Linked DNA regions of Homo sapiens: region 1 is linked to region 2. Evidence: fine-mapped expression QTL. Tissue or cell type: whole blood. Region 2 holds a variant in brackets; the other region holds the start of a gene. All regions are shown on one strand. Distances are from middle to middle. Region 1 holds the start of SLC20A2 (solute carrier family 20 member 2). Region 2 overlaps CHRNB3 (cholinergic receptor nicotinic beta 3 subunit).

Region 1 (10,810 bases), 240 kb before region 2:
GTTTTGATTGGGAAAGGTGAGAATGGCCACCTTCCTGACTCTAGAGAACTCATTACAGAGGAGAAGGCAGAGCACTTACTTGTGGCCTTAGCCATTCCAATGGAATTAGAATTTATTTGTATTAAGTCCATCCTATGTGTGCCCCTGGGCTATTTGTTGTAGATACAAAAATGTTGTGATAAAATGTGTCCCTCTCCTCTATCTCTAGTGAGAGCTGACACACAGATAATACATTCCACTGTGCTTGGATTCGTTAGGGCCTTCTATGTTGCTTCCTGCTCCTAGGGTGTAGTGGGTAGGGTCCAACTTTCCTTGCAGCCCCCTCTCTTCTGAAATGGGCTGTGTGAAGACAGGGACGGACCAACCTGGCCACAGTCTGTGATGTAAAGTGCTCATGAGCCAACAATAAGCTCCCCACCCCCCATATGGGCTACACGCTACCTCTGCCCAGATCCCCTGCAGGTGGCTGTGAGGTCACATGGGGAGGAGAGTCTGGTAACACTGATAAAATACAGTAGATCCATATGCTAACACAATATTATTCTCACATTATCTCAGGTGAGCCTCATTTGAGAGGAACACTGTCTTAGCTCAGAAAAGTAATTGCAAAATTTTCCTGGTTAATTATTAATCTTCTCTAAGTGACAAAAGGAAATCCAGAGCAAAGTCAGGGCTGGAAGGGACTTTGAGAGGTCATTTATCTCCTGACTTTAGAGAGTACATTGAAAACACTGCAAACAAATATAATCCCATGTTTAGATGACTTCAGGAAAAAGGGTTACATTTTTTGGCATCCAGATTGCCCATTTTATAATACCCTCCATCTTTGCATCTCATCCAGCAGACCTCAAATGTCAACGTGCACCAGAATCACTTGGGAGATTTTTTAAACACAGGCTGCTGGCCCTACCCCATGTTTTCTGATTCAGCAGGGCCTGGGTGGGGCCTGAGAATCTGCATTTCTCACATGTTTCCAGGCGGTGCTGACGCTGAAGAAACAGGGTCCCCACTGTCGGCACCTCTGTTCCAGCCCAACCCTTGCTGGACCTGACCCTTTTATTCTAGATGGAAATAGATACCAGTGGGTCACCATTCTTTGCCACTGAGACACACATATACTTGAAGAACAATTCAAGAGTCTCCCGGTCATTTGTTTCCTCTTCCAGGCTAAATAATAGAAGTTCCCTACCCTCTTATCATAGGTATCATTTTCCAACCCTCAATTGGTTTTTTTTTTTTTTTTGAGGTTCTTTGTGGAGCCAAGTCTCTTTGTTGTGGAGCCATGAACTAGACCCAGAACCTTAGAGACTGGCTGAGGTTGGGCACGGGGGGAGGGACTCACAGACTCACAGAACCACGCAGGCCGCTCATGTTATTACTCCCCAGTACCCAAGCCTTCCTATCAGCCCTTCTTCTGATTCATGTGCTTCTAACTCCTTTACAAGCTGCAATAATGCTCAGTAGACCTTCATAATGCCTTTCCTCTGAGAAGCTGAAGGCATTTCCCTAACTAATATTACAGTTGACTCAATATCCTAAACCAGTGCAGGGTTAAGTAACTTGTTGAATTGCAAACCAGTTCAGGAAGGGAGAATCTGGAACTCCAGATTTCTATCTAAATATCATTTTATGGAGAAAGATGCTTTGATATTTATTGCACTTTATAACAAGTTTACCCCCTCCACATAATAATAATAGTTTTAGGTGCAAGTGAAACTGTGAAGCTTCTCCTCTTTGTAGGAGGATTGCAACAGAGGACTGAGAGTGGGGGGCAAGGCTTCTGGGGTCAGTCTTGTCACTTGTCCCCATCACTTCCCAGCTATGGAGGAGAAAGGGAAGGCACAGCCCAGGTGGCACAGCTGTCTGTCCTAATCGTCTTTGGCAAAAGCTCAGAGGAGCTGAATGCTGAAGTATCCTCAACCCACCCCACTCATCTTGTTTCCCTTTTCTTCATTTTCACATTTTTTTTTCTGCCAGTGTAGTTACTGAATGTCAGGGGGCCCAGTTTCTGTGTCCTGCCTTGTTGTAGCATGTGGGTTGGAACTATGCTTTCCTTGTGCACCGCATGTGCTGTGGGGTGCTTAATACATGCTAAATAATGACAGCAGTACCCCGTATGCCCGAGAAATCAGCCTTCCTCCTGAGGGCCATATCCCATTATGTTACACTTGTTTTTAAGACGGACGGAAGCTGAAGGCATCCCTCCTGCTCACTGCTCCTTCCACTTTAGATGAACAGCTGGAACTCACATAACACAGCCTCTTCCGACAAGATTTCCTTTAGAGAGAGAACATTCTAGGGATGTGATCACTGAGCATCCGGGCTCCAAGCCGAAAGGCAACCTGTTACATAGCGCAGTTCCCATTTAGCCATGCAGGCAAGAGACCCATTAAAACCTCATGTGAGGGAAGAGGTCCCAGAGAAAAGGTTCCTCTCTGCGTCCCTGAGAAACCCCTCAAAGCTTCTGAGCAGAAGGCTATCCCTCTAGGCAGAAAGTAACAGTGAAATAAATCTGCAACCGGCAGCGATTCTGTCAGAGCCTCTGGGTCTGTAACTATTTTAAGACGTGGAGGAGTAGGATGAGAGCACGGGCAGCTGGACAGAGTGGCTCCAACAGGACTGCAGGGGAGACGTGCGGTCACCTGCGGCGTGGGAACAGCAGGGCAAGGGCAGGCGGGCTCGGCTCCTGGACTCCTCCTGCGGCCACAAAGCTGCCCTGTTTCTCCGCACCTGGACCCCCAGTGTGTGACTCTGCATAGAGCTCATCATGATTTGTCGCCCAAGGTCATAACCAGTCACAGCCAGCATCATTTCACCAGGCACACGGGGTAGAAGCAGCGAAGAGAATCGCAGCACCGGCAAACACGAGGAATTCCGGCACTAACACTTATATAATGAAAACCTTCTCCGCTCTCACTCACCGCTGCCACTCTCTCACAGCACGTAAATCATTAAAACGAACACTCCTCAAGTGTTTATGCGCATTTTAGCAACTCATCATAAAGCACATGCTTCCTAGTAGTAGAAAAACCTACAGAAACGTCTGTGAAATTAAACAATGGATAAATTCGAATCAGCTTTTCTCTTTTGCAGGACTAAGAACTACAATAGGTCAAGTGAATACTGGTGTGAAAACTAATACCCAACTACAGTGTACCTTTAAAAATGCTCCACTGAGATTCTGATGGTGCCTTATTAACAATTAGAAGTAAGAAGTAATAGCAATAAGTCAGAATTTTTTGGATAAAAATATATATTATGAAGGATTACCGGAGCAAAACCCCTTTTACTGCTGAAGATGACATTAGAGGCTTCTGTTATCATTATAATTCATCTGGGCAGCAAATTTCTCTTCAGCTCAATAAAAACTAAGTATGAAGTAAGTTTCTTTCTAAAAATAGCCCAAGAACTCAGTACTACTTTCCTTTCTTACACTCTTTTCCTACTAAATGGAACACTGAAGTATTTCCTTTCATTGTTGACACTTTATGTCATTTGCATTTAAAATCAGACAATACATAATAACAAAGAAGTCTTTAACTAAATCTTTTCAAAATGGGAAAATGGCTTTCACAATACTAACTGTGGACCTGCCTCCTTCCTTGCTCTAGAGATGACAGGCATAGATAGCTGGTGAGCACCTATCCTATCGCCTAGGAGAACTGTTTTATTAATAACAATATTCCTAAAGCTGATACATTTACTTGCTAATTGATAAAGAAATTCCTGCCTGGTTCTCTGCTGTAAGCAAACTGTTTGGCTTGAGGTCAGTCCACATTGAAAACACACTTCTAAATAAGCAAGATGATTCAAATTTAATTTAAAATATTCAATATCAAAATCTTTTGTTTTCTTCAGTACAAATTTAAGTTGGTAATAATGTGTTAGATGAACTGCAGTTAAGGTTACAGAATCCCATGGCCTTTGGTTACTTTTGATAACTAACTCAGTCTAAAAGAGGATGCTTTAAATTATTCTCTAAAACCTTCTTCCTAAATTAATTTTTTAAAGTGCTTCTCTTTAGGCATATATGGGTTTATTTTTTAAGCACAAAATCCCCCTTAAAAGGATAAAAAACTGTCCATCTATACATTCAAGAAAATTACATTTGACACTCCATTATTTCTACAAAATAAACTTGTAGCACAGAGTATAACAGGAATTAACTTTCAACATTTTTTTCTCAAGAATTAGGTTACCATAGTAGAAAACAAAGCTCAATGACACAATACAATGTTTCTGTATTTACAGAAACCATATCCATTAATCAAATATTTTAACATAAAATAATAATCTACAGATTGCTTTTGCAAAAATAAGTAAGAATCGAAAACTTTTTCTTGGGCAAATTGAATAAGGCAGATTTATTGCAGTAGGAGACATTTAAAGAAAAACCTTTTGCCACCTCTCTTAGCTTTCTCTAACGTACCAACCTGAAAGCTTCCAGTTTTCCCAAGAGATAAACATTACTATGACGGTAACATTAGGAAGATTTAAGGAGAAAAGAACAAAGAGAAGTCTTAAAATTCCACCCAGTACTTACAAGTAGTTTCCAAGAAAACTGAGCCACAATTCTTCAGAAGACTGCTCTCCTGATCACAAACACAATCTGAAGTCTAAAATAGATATCCTACCACATTAGGCCGAGAAGTCACATTTCAGCTTGCTAACTTCTACTTTTACAACTCATAGAACTAACCCCGGCTAAAATTAACTGCAGCCAAGCAGCAGGCAGGAACACGCTGATTTGCATCATGTGTGCCGGGATTTATTCACTAGGACAACATCGGTGTCCTCTTAATGGGAAATGCGGCCAAGGGGCGTGCCCTGGTGAACAATACATAGCATCATGATTATGCTAATTACTGAATTCAGTCCAATAATACTAACTTCTTTTAAGTTGTTTTTGCAAGTACTGACAAAGAGAAGGAGTAAGCTTTTTCCCAACAGGCATTCACTTGATTTTTAAGCACATTCAAATCAGACCAAACTTTGGCAACAAGGTGGCAGTGCTGTGTGCTCTTCACAAGCAAAAGCAAAGCAAAAGGACATTCTGTCCGATTATTTAAACAGCGTGATTAGATGCAGCACTACGTGAAATTAAATAGACACAGAATATACATATCAGTAAGTCTATCCACCAGAATCCTGAAATAAAAGCTTTTTCTTTCTCTATAATGAACTGATTGCAGGGACTTGCTTTCTGGCTCTGCCTCCTCCTGCACCTCCCAAGGAGTCGCTATGAAGACACAGATTCAGTAATAAATCACAACTGAGAATAAACATCTCAAATATTTGCAAAGGCATTGTCCTTGGCAAGAAGCATTTTAAGGTGGATTTAACTCCTTGGCTAGAAAAATTGTCCTCTGTAGGTGACTGACCATCTACAAAGCATGTTGGAACTCAAGTTAACAGGTAAAGACCCCAAACATACAGCTGACACTTAAAAGAAAATCAGAACATGAAAAACTTTCTCTCGAAAATATAAGTACAACTTATAACAAAGACACAAAACCGCTTAGTATCTACTCAAGACGGTTTGGGACTAGTTTGCTTTAGACTAAGTTCTGATGACATATTTTGCTCTTATTGAACACTCTATGAAAGATATCAAAGCACTTTACAAACATCAATCAAATCTCCAAGCATCTTTGGGAGATGTCATTTTCCTCTTTTTTTTTTTTTCCCACAGACAGGTAAAAGACAGGGTAATTCCATTTCAACGACTTCAACCAACCCTGGATCACCCCATCTCCTCCTGAGACCTTTATAACATCTTCCGTATTAACCACTTACCTATAATCCTATAGACCTTTTCAGAGCCATTTGTTTTCCTCATTTTAAAATGTCATATGTTAGTTTGGACTTCAGGAGATTCACTCTACTTAACACCCAGATGCCAGGCCTGAACCCCAGGGGCTTAAAAAGCCCTCCTTGACTCTCTCTTGCAGACAGGTATCCTGCAACATGGATCCCTAAAACATGGCGATGCCCTCAGGAGGCACTGTCCATCTGCAGCCTGCTGCCCAAAGCACAAACCGGTTGATCTTCATTGGTGTGAGTTGGACATCACCAGCACAATCTCCCTCCTGTTGTTTACAAACACTGCTGGCTGCTGATCTGAGATTGCATCCCCTCGGCCTAACCTGAGGCTCTGTGCCAGCACCTGCCCCACCTCTGCAAGAGGGTGGCTGGTATGCATTCCCCTTCACTCCAACCCAGAGTCATGGGAGGCAGGCATTTCCTGCTCTGTGCTGAAAGGAGAGAAGTCAGCACTCATCAAAGATGGCTAGCTGCTAATGAACAGAATTATTCTCAATAATCCACTGCAAACTCACTCCAGAAGTCTTAATGCCAAAAAGGACCTTGTAAGGCTATTTTTGACACGATATTCTCATCCTATTATGTCATAGTTCAGGACAAAAGTCTCTAAGCCAAAATATTATTTCTGCCCTAAACCAGAAAGTAAGAAAAAGCAAATACACCAAGTGCATTTCTGCATCAGAGTTTGTATTGGAAAGGAGCAATCTGATGTATGATGGATCCTACATCCATTCATTGGAAGGCAGGGGCCCCTGAGCAATGCTCCGGTTCCTCACATGTCAGATATGCCTAGTATGACTCTGCTGTTTCAACAGCAGCCACACCTGTTCCACAGTGGAAGAACCAAAGCATTCCAAATAAAAGAGTCTCCTCCAATTTACATTAGTCATTCTGCTGCTTCCTTTTCATTAGTGAAACTACTTGAGTCAACAGTGCTTTTGTTCTAGGTATACTTATGACAGTAGATAAAAATCTGTATCAGAGTACCTTGAAAAGCAGAGTAAATTCTTCCCATTTGTTCTCATTAATTTTTGGTGGTAGAGGAGGGACAGGGAAGGCGGTGACCTATGGGATCTTTAGTTCAACGAATCCATGAAATTAAAGAAAATTACTATGTTTATGAATGTCCACTAATGAATGAACCCAGATACCAACCTTCTATGAGCAGTTACATGTATAATTTAAAATTTTCTAGTAGCTGCTTTTAGAAAAGTAACAATAAAGAGGTAAAATTAATTTAATAATATATTTTAACTCAATATATCCAAGATATGATCATTTTAATGTGTAATAATCATAAAAACTATTAATGAGATATCTTCATTCTTTTGTTTGTACTGCCCCAAGCCTGTGCAATCCAGTGCGTATTTTACAATTAGTACATTCCAATCTGGACAATCCACATTTCCAGTGCTCAGTACCCACATGTGCCTGGTGACTATCATAGTGGAAAGCCAGAGTGTACAAATATCTTCCTGACAACAGCTTTTCTACAACATGTACTAATATTTACATGTTTCTGGGCATGTGCACACTTATATACACTCAAGAAACATCAACTAAATACTGGGCATATAGGATGAAAAACGCCTAGTTTTTGTCCTCAAGGAGCTCAAAGTTTAGATACTTGGCATCCTTTGTTTTTTAGAGCTAGGGTCTCATTCTGTCACCCAGGCTGAAGTGCAGTGGCACAATCATGGCTCACTGCAGCCTTCACCTCCTGAGCTCAAGCAATCCACCCACCTCAGCCTCCTGAGTAGCTGGGACTACAGGCACGTGCCAGCACACCTGGCTAATTTTAAAATTTTTTTGTAGAGAGGAGGTCTCACCATGTTGCCCAGGCCAGCCTCGAACTCCTGGGCTCAAGTGATTCTTCCACCTCAGCCTCCCAAAGCACTGGGATCACAGGCATGAACTACTGCCCCTGGCTTCTTGGCATTCTTTACCTTTGAAATAATATGCAAAATATTCTGTGTTCTCTGTGTGTATTCTTCTGGGGAGATAACTTTCTTCATCACTTTATTAAAGGAGTCTGTGTCTCAAAAAGGTTAAGAGCCAGGAGACTAGACTAGTAGCAGATGCTGGGAGAAATGGAGAGCTAAGGAAAATGAAGGAACTGAGACAGATAGAAGGGGAAAGATCCGAGGAGAAAGAAAGACTAAAAGGAAGATAAATAAACAAAAAAGAGAGAAGAAGAATTTCATTGCTAGACATGAAATTTTAGTTATAAAATCATATAATAAAAATTGGTGGCCAGGCGTGGTGGCTCACGCCTGTAATCCCAGCACTGTGGGAGGCCGAGGTGGGTGGATCACGAGGTCAGGAGTTCAAGACCAGCCTGACCAACATGCTGAAACCCTGTCTCTACTAAAAATACAAAAAAAATTAGCCAGGCATGGTGGCGCACGCCTGTAGTCCCAGCTACTCAGGAGACTGAGGCAGGAGAATCCACTTGAACTTGGGAGGCAGAGGCTGCAGTGAGCCAAGATCATGCCACTGCCAAGATCACACCAGCCTGGGCAACAAAGCAAGACTCCGTCTCAAAAAAAAAAAAAAAAAAAAAAAAAAAAAAAAAAGGCATGTTCCAGTTACTATGCCAGGTACTGGGGACAGATACAGAGATGAAAGACAAGGTCTCTATGTCCAGGGAGTTCACATTTTAGTGACAGGAACAGACTCACCCAGGCAGATACAATACTTGGGTAAGTATGAAGACGCAGTTTATGTGCAATGTGCTATGGCTACAGCGGGGAGAGGAAGGAGGGTGCCACACAAGAGGGACGCAATACCCCCCCAACCTTTTTTTTTTTTTAATTGAGAAGATGTCTCACTCTGTCGCCCAGCCTGGAGTGCAGTGACACAATCTTGGTTCACTGCAACCTCCACCTCCCAGGCTCAAGCGATCCTCCCACCTTAGCCTCCCAAGTAGCTGGGACTATAGGTGTGCACCACCACACCTGGCTAATTTTTATATTTTTTGTAGAGATGGAGTTTTGCTATGTTGCCCTGGCTGGTCTCAAGCTCATAATAGGATAGTAAATAAATAGGCTGGGCTCAAGCAATCCACCCAACTCGGCCTCCCAAAGTGCTGGGATTACAGGCGTGAGCCACCATGCCTGACCCCTCATTTCTTAAATGAAGGTTATTTTCTGATCAAATTTTAAATCTATGTTCTGGAATAACTCAAGATTCTGCATTTTAGTTTGGAACCTTAGAAAAGCATGGATAGGTCATGGAGAAATCAGGTATTCTAAAATATTTTAAAATGACATCTGGAAATAGCAGTGAAGTTTCTATTCTGAGCTATTTATCATCAAATTGAACCTGGTTATTTGATCCAACTATTTAAGGTTGAGGCAGGAGGATCACTTGAGGTCAGGAGTTTGAGACCAGCCTGGCTAATGTAGCGAAACCCCGTCTCTACAAAAAACTTAGCCGGGCACGGTCACACATACCTGTAGTCCCAGCTACTTGGGAGGCTGAGGCATGAGAATCAGTTGAACCTGGGAGGCGGGGGTTGCAGTGAGCTGAGATCACGCCACCACTCCAGCCTGGATGACAGAGTGAGACTCTATCTCAAAGAAAAAAAAAAGCCATCAAAAAATGAACATTGAAGAAAAAACTCTTCAACTCGTTAAGAATTCTCTGTATTTTATTTATTTATTTTGAGACAAAGTCTCTGTCACAGTAGTGCAATCTCGGCTCACTGCAACGTCCGCCTCCTGTGTTCAAGGATTCTCCTGCCTCAGCCTCCTGAGCAGCTGGGATTATAGGTGTGTGCCACCACGACCAGCTGATTTTTGTATTTTTAGTAGAGACGGGGTTTCGCCATGTTGGCCAGGCTGGTCTCAAACTCCTGACCTCAGGCATCCATCCACCTTGGCCTCCCGAAGTACTGGGATAATAGGTGTGAACCACTGTGCCTGGCCCACGTTAGGAATTCTTTGGATTGTAGCTGTGGACTCAGAAAGACCTGGGTTCAAAGTGTACCCCACGACCTACTAGCTGTCTGACCTCGAGCAATTGAGCTCACCTCTGTGACTTGGCTTCCTCGCCTGTAAAATGGGGATAATGTTGCTGACATCAAGGGTTGGTGTTGGAAGGAAGTGAGATGTATCTAGCACAGGCACACAAAGAGTCTCATAAACGGCCGGGGCCATTATGCTCACAGCAGGTCTAGCAGCAGTATGGTACTTGCTGAAGGGCAATTTGGGATATTTACTGAGTGCGGATTAAAGGCTCCCTGTTTTTATAGCATGAAGCTTCTTCAAAAAATAAAATGTTGAAAGGAATTTCAAATGGTCGTTAAGTATTTCAGGAAAACCAGGGTTTGTAAACTCCTTTGGAAAACTCTGTAGCTGCGCCAGCCTGTTTAATTTTCTCCGTGATATGGTCTCATGTCCCCAGCCAGAGGTTAGCACAGGATTCAGGGTCACTGACTGAAGAACACAGGCGAATCATGTGTCTGGGCAGATGGCTGCTGTAAAGTCCCCCTATTCCTTCCTTACCCTAGGGAGTCCCTTCCTGCACTGACTCTGGGCTTGGCCAGTAGGACAACAGCAAACATAATGCTGGGCCCTGGAAAGTGCTGGTGCATGGGGGCTCACCCTCTCTTGCAACTTCGAAATGCCCGCCCTGGCTTGCCTACTACAAATGAGAAGGCCACATGGAGTGGGGATGCACCATCACTGCTGAGTCCCTGCCACTGGTCAGCCCGCTGAGCACCTGATGGGTGGGTCAGGCCATCGTAAACCACACAGCCAGCCAGCTGCCAGCTGACTGCAAAGTCCAGCCAGGCTTGCTCAAGTCAGAACCACTCCGGTGCCCTACAGAACTGTGAGGTACAGAAAGAAATGTTTGTTTTTTTGAGCCACTAGTATCAGGTGGTTTGTTATGCAGCAAAAGCTGACTAACACACATTCCTCCAAAAAGGCTGCATGCTCAGGAGGGCTACACCAGTGTGATCCACAGCGATGCAGTCTTCACA
Region 2 (10,260 bases):
AGATAAAAGAGAAGGAGAAAGAAAAGAAGTAGCGTGGGAAGAGTGTGAATTTCAGACTGAAAACAGTCCTGGGTTCAGATCATAATCTGAATGACTTAAGACAAGTTACTTAACCTGAGCCTCAGTTTTCTGAATCCTACCTTGAAAAGTTTGTGTGAGGATTAAATGACATAAAATACAAACATGCACAGTGTACCCAGCACACAGGGGCTCAGCTCCGTTGTATAAGCAGTCAACAAGTGTGAATTCTCGCCTTTCTAATTATCATCCTCATCCTTCTTCTTTTTTTTTTTTTTTTTTTTTGAGAGGAGTCTTGCTGTCACCCAGGTTGGAGTGCGGTGGTGTGATCTCAGCTTACTGCAACCTCCGCCTGCTGGGTTCAAGCGATTCTGCTGTCTCAGCCTCCCAAGTAGCTGGGACTACAGGTACACACCACCACACCTGGCTAATTTTTCTTGAATTTTCATTAGAGATGGGGTTTTGCCATGTTGGCCAGAATGGTCTCGAACTCCTGACCTCGGGTGATCCACTGCCTCAGCCTCCCAAAGTGCTGGGATTACAGGCATGAGCCACCGTGACCAGCCCATTCTTCTAAACAGTCCTTCCCCAGTGGAATGAAAATATTATTTGACGTGCAGATATTAAGCGTAAAAAGTGATCTGTTGGGCCAGGCACGGTGGCTCATGCCTGTAATCCCAGCACTTTGGGAGGCCAAGGTGAGTGGATCACGAGGTCAACAGATCAAGACCATCCTGGCCAACGTGGTGAAACCTGATCTCTACTAAAAATACAAAAATTAGCCAGGCGTGGTGGTGGGAGCCTGTAGTCCCAGCTACTTGGGAGGCTGAGGCAGGAGAATCACTTAAACCTGGGAGGCAGAGGTTGCAGTGAGCTGAGAGTGCACCACTGCACTCCACTCCAGCCTGGCGACAGAGCGAGACTCCATCTCAAAAAAAAAAAAAAAAAAAAAAAAGTGATCTGTTGCCTAAAGCAAGTTACATATTTTCAATTTATATGAGAACTTCAATTTATAGGGTTCAAATATTTTACTCTAAAATTGATGAAAATTAGTGCCAAGAGCCTGATCCCGTAAACAAACTGATGAAAGAATTTTTTTTTTTTTTTTTGAGATGGAGTCTCGCTCTGTCACCGAGGCTGTAGTGCAATAGCTCGATCTCAGCTCACTGCAAGCTCCACCTTCCGGGTTCGTGCCATTCTCTAGCCTCAGCCTCCCGAGTAGCTGGGACTACAGGCACCCGCCACCACGCCTGGCCAATTTTTTGTGTTTTTAGTAGAGACAGGGTTTCACTGTGTTAACCAGGATGGTGTCGATTTCCTGACCTCGTGATCCGCCCACCTCGGCCTCCCAAAGTGCTGGGATTACAGGCCTGAGCCACTGCACCTGGCCAAGAATTTTTTTTAGAAATATCCTTCTACATTTTCTCTTGCGTTCACAGACACTGCCTCATATGTCCTCTCTCTTAACAATCTGTCATGTTTTTCATCCACTTAAAATTGTTTTTAAAAGCACTAGAAAAGTGACTGCTGCTAGACAAGAAACATTCAGCTGTCAAGTTGGGAGAATTTTTTTGTTTGTTTCTTAACATCTTTTAAAAACACTAATACAGGGCCAGGCGCGGTAGCTCACGCCTGTAATCCCAGCACTTTGGGAGGCCGAGGCGGGCGGATCACGAGGTCAGGAGACGGAGACCATCCTGGCTAACAGGGTGAAACCCTGTCTCTACAAAAAATACAAAAAATTAGCCGGGCGTGGTGGCCGGCGCCTGTAGTCCCAGCTACTCGGGAGGCTGAGGCAGGAGAATGGTGTGAACCCGGGAGACGGAGCTTGCAGTGAGCCAAGATCATGCCACTGCACTCCAGCCTGGGCGACAGAGCAAGACTCCGTCTCAAAAAACAAACAAACAAACAAAAAAACACTAATACAGGCCGGGTGTGGTGGCTCACGCCTGTAATCCTAGAACTTTGGGAGGCCGAGGCGGGTGGATCACCTGAGGTCAGCAGCTCGAGACCAGCCTGGCTAACACGTTGAAACCCTGTCTCTACTAAAAATACAAAAATTAGCTGGGCATGGTGACGAGTGCCTGTAATCCCAGTTACTCGGGAGGCTGAGGCAGGAGAACCACTTAAACCCAGGAGGTGGAGGTTGCAGTGAGCCAAGATTGCACCACTGCAGCCTGGGTGGCAGAGTGAGACTATGTCTCAAAAAAGCAAAACAAAACAAAACAAAACAAAAACCTAATACAAAGATTTCTTTTTTTTCCCCAAGACGGAGGACATTTATTTACTCTAGAGGGATGAGGACTCCCCTTCCTTTCAGACTTCCCCAGCCAGTCGTGCCTTGACTTTGTGTTTATGGACCTGTTGCCCACTCTCTGCACCTCCCCTTCCTAATAAAGGGGACTCAGTTTCTTGTCTCCTTCATGAATTCCTGTCTTGTCCTGGTCGGTTCTTCTCCTTGGCAGCACCCTTCCTTCTGGAGCTGCAGCACAGGTGGAGTGGAAGAAAAGAAAGCCTGTGACATTTGGCCACAAAAACTCTTAAATTATAAACTTGTGATTCTTTTCATACGTGTATCAGGAAGCACCCTAGTAAGATATACTGGCTTCCTAAGATATGCTCTGTCTCCTGGGTTCAAGCAATTCTCCTGCCTCAGCCTCCCAAGTAGCTGAGATTACAGGTGCCCGCCACCATGCCCAGCTAATTTTTGTATTTTTAGTAGAGAGGGAGTTTCACCATGTTGGCCAGCTCGTCTCGAACTCCTGACCTCAGGTGATCCCCCCACCCCCAGGCCTCCCAAAGTGCTGGGATTACAGGCGTGAGCCACCGCACCTGGCCTATAGTGGCTCTTTATTCATGTAAAAATCAGACTTTTCCTATTCTGATCAGGAATGTTGACATATGCATACAGAATTCTATTGTTTCTATTTTCCTTCTTCAGTGCTGATGAGAGTGTTCCAAGCTGCTTCTTTTGGGCACAATTAGCGAAGTCCCTGAAAGAACCTGAGCCTGTAGTGTGGTTGGGACATTAGATGCATTTTGAAAACTTAAGTAAATGCTATAAATCTGAATGTTACTCTTTTTTAATCCCTTGAGATGAATACAGAACAGTTGCTCAGTGTCTTGAGTGAAAGGCATCTTTTTCTCTTTTGCAGGTAGTACAAGACTGGAAATTTGTAGCTCAAGTTCTTGACCGAATCTTCCTGTGGCTCTTTCTGATAGTGTCAGTAACAGGCTCGGTTCTGATTTTTACCCCTGCTTTGAAGATGTGGCTACATAGTTACCATTAGGAATTTAAAAGACATAAGACTAAATTACACCTTAGACCTGACATCTGGCTATCACACAGACAGAATCCAAATGCATGTGCTTGTTCTACGAACCCCGAATGCGTTGTCTTTGTGGAAATGGAACATCTCCTCATGGGAGAAACTCTGGTAAATGTGCTCATTTGTGGTTGCCATGAGAGTGAGCTGCTTTTAAAGAAAGTGGAGCCTCCTCAGACCCCTGCCTTGGCTTTCCCAGACATTCAGGGAGGGATCATAGGTCCAGGCTTGAGCTCACATGTGGCCAGAGTGCACAAAAAGCTGTTGCTACTTGGTGGAGGAACACCTCCTAGAAGCAGCAGGCCTCGGTGGTGGGGGAGGGGGGATTCACCTGGAATTAAGGA[A/G]GTCTCGGTGTCGAGCTATCTGTGTGGGCAGAGCCTGGATCTCCCACCCTGCACTGGCCTCCTTGGTGGTTTTGTCTGAGCTGCAAACTGGGGCCGTGTTATGCTTGTTAGCAATGGGCCAGGCAAATCTCAACAAGGGTTTGGGGATTACACTGGCAGGATAGCTGGCACTGCACACTTAACAATAACACAGATTCCAAGTTGCCTGGCCTACCGAAGCAGGTGTTATTCATGGTTTATTCCCAGCATGATAAGGCTTTCAGATGGTGAAACTGGAGCCCACTGTGAGCTGTGACTTCCTTTAAGGTCATGCATACCAAAATAACTCACAATAGAAACAAAGCCCTTTGCTACCAGAAGTGGATTCATTAATACCCATTATCTTTTCCTAGTAAACTAGTGTACAGAACATTCTCTGATTAATGGTTTTTGATGTCACCTCGTCTAATCGGATCCATACCAACACTATCCCCTAGGCTCCACCTGCTGTTTCCCTGTCTCCTGGCACCTGGGTGGGCTTCACCCCCACCCACCATCATTCCTTCTCTAAGACTCCGAGGGGAGTCTGCTCAGGTTCTTCTTGCCCTCCAAAATTGCTGCCTCTGCCCAATCCTTCCTGAATTTTAGCTTAAAGCAATTTTTCTCTCTGCCCAGTTATAAATCCAAATCCCTTTCTGGAGTACTTTTAGGCATGGCTCTTGCAAGCAGTTTGCAATCTAGGCTGGGTGGAGTGGCTCACACCCATAATCCTAGCACTTTGGGAGGTCAAATCAGGAGGATTGCTTGAGGCCAGGAGTTTGAGACCAGCCTGCTCTCTACAGCAAGACCCTGTCTCTACAAAAAATTTAAAAAATTAAAATTTTAACAATTTTAGTGATGTGTGCCTACAGTCTCAGTTACTCAGGAGGCTGAAATGGGAGGATCACTTGAACCCAGTAGTTGGAGGCTGCAGTGAGCCATGATTGCTCCACTGCACTCCAGCCTGGGCGACAGAGCAAGACGCAGTCTCTTAAAAAAAAATCTAAGTGGCTGGGCGTAGTGGCTCACGCCTGTAATCCCAGCACTTTGGGAGGCCAAGGTGGATGGATCGCAAGGTCAGGAGATCGAGACCATCCTGGCTAACACAGTGAAACCCCATCTCTACTAAAAATACAAAAAATTAGCCAGGTCCATGCCTATACTCCCATCTACTTGAGAGGCTGAGGCAGGAGAATCACTTGAACCCGGGAGGCAGAGCTTGCAATGAGCCGAGATTGCGTCACTGCACTCCAGCCTAGGCAACAGAACAAGATTCCATTTAAAAAAAAAAAAATCTAAGCATGAAACACCTTCACATATTGTTACCACTGATGTATTTCGTCTTATTAATGCCATTTAGTTTGTGCTTTCTGTATAACATTCTCTTGTTCCTTCACCTTTTTCCCTTCACCTTTTCCCCCACTTTTTCAGCCTTGGCCGAGTTTGTAGTTTGTCCATTCCTTCTTTGCCTTTAATGGCTTGAAAGTTACATGTCCGCTTCTATTAATTTATTAATAAACATTCAACTTTTTAAATCAATGTTGAGAATTAGTGTTTGTGGCTGCCACTTTCTACACAAAATAATTTCTTTAGGACCCTCACTTCCCCTCACCTTCATTTCACTTTTATCACTTTCCACATTTTCTTTAAATCATCCAGAATTTTAGTTCTACATGATTAATTTTTATATTATGTGTTCCTTTCCCTAAGAACCATGTATTCACCACACATTTTGTCCATAACCACATGACAAACAATTTCATTTATTTGTTCATCACTGTTTTTTATCTTAAGCATTCCTCTTTTCCTGCTTCATTTCTTCCATTATTTCAGAAGAGCATGTCTTCAAGTAATTCTTTCAGGAAATATTTGAGTGTGGTAACCTTCTTGAACCCTTGCTTTTCTGAAATTGTAATTTATTTTGCCTTCACATTTAAATAATGGATTGGCTGGGTGTGGAATTCTGGTTCAAAATCATTTTCCCTCGGAGCTTTGAAAACATTATTGTATAATATCCCGTGCTCTAGATGGGAAGCATGCTGGGGTTGATTATTATTCCTCACTCGATAGGTCCCTCTAGGGTTTCAGTTTCCCAGTCAGTAATAAGAAGTATCGACGAAAAGAGTCAAACTCTGCAAAATATTTGAGGAGATGTATTCTGAGCCAAATATGAGTGATCATGACCTGTGACACAGCCCTCAGGAGATCCTGAGGACATGTGCCTAAGGTGGTCAGGGCACAGCCTAGTTTTATACATTAGGGAGACAGGAGACATCAATCAAATACATGTAAGGTTTACAGTGGTTCTTTTTTTTTTTTTTTTTTTTTTGAGATGAAGTCTCGCTCTGTCACCCAGGCTGGAGTGCAGTGGCTCCATCTCGGCTCACTGCAAGCTCCGCCTCCCGGGTTCACGCCATTCTCCTGCCTCAGCCTCCGTAGTAGCTGGGACTACAGGCGCCTGCCAGCATGCCCAGCTAATTTTTTGTATTTTTAGTAGAGATGGGGTTTCACCGTGTTAGCCAGGATGGTCTCAATCTCCTGACCTCGTGATCTGCCCACCTTGGCCTCCCAAAGTGCTGGAATTACAGTCGTGAGCCACCGCGCCCGGTCTACAATGGTTCTATCTGGAAGGGCAGGACAACTCAAAGCAGGGGGGTTGGAGGGGGTTTCCAAGTCATAGGTAGATTTTAAAATTTTCTGATTAGCAATTGGTTGAAATAGTTATTATCAATAGAAAGGAGTGTCTGGTTGACAATGAGGGGTTGTGGAGATCAAGGTTTTATCATGCAGATGAAGCCTCCAAGTAGCAGGCTTCAGAGAGAAGAGATTGCAAATGTTCCTTATCAGACTTCTGATCAGTGTTGATGTTAATTCTGGTTGGCTTTTCCTGAATTCCAAAAAGGAGGAGGGTATAGTGAGGCATGTCTGAGCCCCACTTCCATCATGGCCTGAATAGGTTTTTCAGATTAATTTTGGGCTGCCCTGGCCAAAAGGAGGGGACCATTCAGATGGTTGGGAGGCCTTAGAATTTTAGTTTTGGTTTATAGGAGTTATGATTCATGCATGACCTTTGAAGCTCTCCCCTGCTCTAAATTTCTATATTTTGGATAATTTTACTGGAGCTTTCACAGTTTTTAAACCACACAACTCAGTGTAACTTTGTTCCTTTGGGAAAATTGAACCTGCTTTATCAGTACTTCAGGATGGGATTTGCAGGAATACATTGTGATGAAAATCAAGGATTCTTTGCCTTAAATTATTGATGGGATTGTGGATTCAAAGGGCAAGCCACTATTCCTCTCCTTTTTATTGAGAATACTATTGACTTTAACACACCACTTAACTTTAACTCTTAGTTTGCTAGGTAAATGATGTCAATCTAAAATAATCAAAAGGGTCAGAATCTAGTTTAAGCAGTTTATTCAAGTGCAAAGTTTGAGGACAACCCTCCCAGGAACCACAGATTCCAAAGAATGGAAGTCAGCGTTCCAAAGTTAGAAATTTGGGATCACTTTTATAGACAAAGCTTAGGGAAGTTTAACAGAATTTTAGCCTCTTTCTATATAAGGCTTAATGCATAGTCACAATGTTCTCATTAGTCAAGGTGGTTCTTTTCTTTTGGAAAAGGTATATTTAACATTCTACACTGAAGATGGAACTGTCATGGGGTCCCCGTTTGGGACACCATCTGGCCTGAGTTAGGTACAGGATAACAAAGGAGGCAGTTAATCTATCACAATGATCAGTGTTTGGAAGAGGGAGGTCTGGTCTTTCCTAGTTAATGACAGAACAAGGACAATGAGAAAGAGAGTTAAGCTATAATCTAAGAAACAGACGTGACAACAACATGCCATATAACTCAGATCACAGCCACATCTCTCTCAAAGCTTAAAGCGTTTGGGGGTTTCCAACAGCTTTTAAGTTTTATTTATTTTCACAATGATTATACTAATTTCAGAAAAATGTGTTTAGATATGAATTCAGTTTCAAAGTTTGAAAAAATGCCAGTATGAGCCGGGGGGGTGGCTCATGCCTGTAATTCCAGCCACATGGAAGGCTGAAACAGGAGGTTCACTTGAGCCCAGGAGTTGAAAGTTTCAGTGACCTATGATTGTGCTGCTGCACTCCAGCCAGGAGCGGCAGAGTGAGCCCTCATGTCTAAAGCAAAAACAAAACAAAGTTAAAGGAAAAAAAAAAAGGAAATACCAGCATGAAACACCTTCTACAGGAAGCTTCTTACTGATCAGACACAGATTCAGAAAAGATTAAGCCTTCACATGTGTACATGTAGCCAAGGTGGGAGATAATAACAGCTTCAAACACAGAAAAGAACAAGTATTTATATAACATAATAATCCTAAGGAAGTAACCACAAATGATCACTCTAAGGCAAAGAAATTTTAATTCCAAATGTATAGCAAGAAAAATCTATGTGCAAAATCTGCCAATTAATCCAAGAAGTGGAAGTTGCAAGAACGATTTCTCTCTGTATCACACTGCAGCAGGATGAGCCGCAGACAAAACCTCTCAGACACCGAGATGTAGAAGCAAAGGCTTTATTCAGCTGGGAGCATCGGCAAGCTACTGCCTTAAAATCCAAGCTCCCCGAGTGCACAATTTCTGTCCCTTTTAAAGGCTCACAACACTAAAGATTTCACGTGAAAGGGTCATGATTGATTTGAGCAAGCAAGGGGTACGTGACAGGGGCTGCATGCACTGGTGGTCAGAGAGAAACAGAACAGGGCAGGGAGTTTCACAGCGTTCTTCTATACAATGTCTGGAATCTATGAATAACATCGGTTTCTAAATTATGAGTTGATTTTTAACTACTGGGTTTAGGCCAGGCAGGCCCAGGCCTAGTTTCAGGCCTGGCGCCAGGCTGCCTGTCTTTGGTTTTACTTCCTTGTTGTTTTTTTTTTAAAACAGGTACTGAGTATAAAACAATGTGAGAGGATCTCTCTCTTCCCTCAACACGTGTGAGTGTGGGACACACGTGTGCAGGCACACACACGGGGGGCCACAGAGAGCTGTCCACATTATGTGCAGCCTTCAGATTTCTGCTCACACACCCCCGCCACTGCTCCTCCTGAAGCCTTCATAGAACACATGGCCCCCACTGGGCTCCCTGTGTTGGAAAGCCAGTGGCATTTCCAGTGTATGCTGTATGGTTTAGAATATCATTTCTATTATTAAGTGAACCTCATTTTCTTAGCTATACCAGTATATTCTCCATCATACCCCCAACAATATCTAATAGAGCGTAGTCCACAGTCAAGGCTTACTTGATATTTGTTGATTAATTAAACCAGATACCAGGAATTTTGGATGAAGTTGTCTAAAATGGGGACAAATGTGTACTCTTGCTCAGCCCCTCCAAATATTTCTAGCTCTGTGTGTGTAATTTTCAGTATTCTCCTTAGAAAAACATTTTCTTACATTAAAACAATCTCCAAAATACTATTATCATACTTAGCAAAATTAGTAATTCTACATTCAAGTTCCCTGCCTCAAAAATATCCCAATTTGATATTTAGCTTGTCTCAAATAGGATTTGACCCAAGACCATTTGTTATGCCTGTTAAATCTTTTTTTTTTTTTTTTTTGAGACGGAGTCTTGCTCTGTCGCCCAGGCTGGCACGATCTTAGCTCACTGCAAGCTTTGCCTCCCGGGTTCATGCTATTCTCCCGCCTCAGCCTCCCGAGTAGCTGGGACTACAGGCACCTACCACCACGCCCAGCTAATTTTGTTTTTGTATTTTTAGTAGAGATGGGGTTTCACTGTGTTAGCCAGGATGGTCTCGATCTCCTGACCTTGTGATCTGCCCACCTCAGCCTCCCAAAGTGCTGGGATTACAGGTGTGATCTTAAATCTATTTTAATCTCTTTCTTGGCACTGATTTGTTGAAAGGACCAGATCCGTTTTCCCCAAGTATATCTCCCTATTTGGAGTTTGTCTGGTTGCTTGCTTCTGGTGGCATTTACCTTATTCCTTTGTCTCCTGTATTTTCCTGTAAACTGAAAGTTACATCTGTATCCCTAAACATATTTCCCCTGGGACAGAGTCTCACTCTGTCACCAGGCTGCAGTGCAGTGGCATGATCTCGGCTCACTGAAACCTCCACCTCCCAGGTTCAAGCAATTCTCCTGCCTCAGTCTCTTGAGTAGCTGGGATTATAGGCTTGTGCCACCACGCCAGGCTAATTTTTGTATTTTGAGTAGATATGGGGTTTCCCCATATTGGCCAGCTGATCTTGAACTCCTGGCCTGAAGCAGTCCTCCCCCCTCAGCCTCTCAAAGAGCTGGGATTACAGGCATGAGCTACCGCACCCAGCTCAATCTTTTTGTTAGGGATGTGCTATAGATGATAACATGGTGTTCATATTATACCATAGTGAGGAGGGAGGCTACTTGGCTATCTGATCATTAGAGTTAAGATTAATCCCTAGATTAAGGTAATGCAAGTCTGATCTCTCCACTGTATCCAGTGGTAAATCTTGTGGTCTAGCCTGAGGCCACAACACACAGCAAGGTTACAAAAACTCTTAGCTATGATC

What was found. PIP is the estimated chance that this variant, and not a neighbour inherited with it, causes the effect. A credible set is the group of variants that fine-mapping cannot tell apart.
Region 1: it holds the start of SLC20A2, and the variant in region 2 is the best candidate, but not a certain one, in a credible set for the expression of SLC20A2 in whole blood (TOPMed, PIP 0.82).

Annotation. Positions count from the first base shown.
Region 1 is chr8:42,496,488-42,507,297 of GRCh38, forward strand. SLC20A2 (solute carrier family 20 member 2) reads right to left here and starts at 4,744. Exons shown (of 11, transcript NM_001257180.2): 1 at 4,544-4,744. RefSeq lists an enhancer at 5,651-6,850.
Region 2 is chr8:42,733,311-42,743,570 of GRCh38, forward strand. CHRNB3 (cholinergic receptor nicotinic beta 3 subunit) reads left to right here. Exons shown (of 6, transcript NM_000749.5): 6 at 3,174-4,097. The coding sequence ends at 3,308. Among named protein-coding and RNA genes, the nearest start is that of CHRNA6, 30 kb to the right of the region's middle. RefSeq lists enhancers at 8,445-8,634, 8,805-8,874. The variant A/G (reference allele first, on the strand shown) is at 3,689.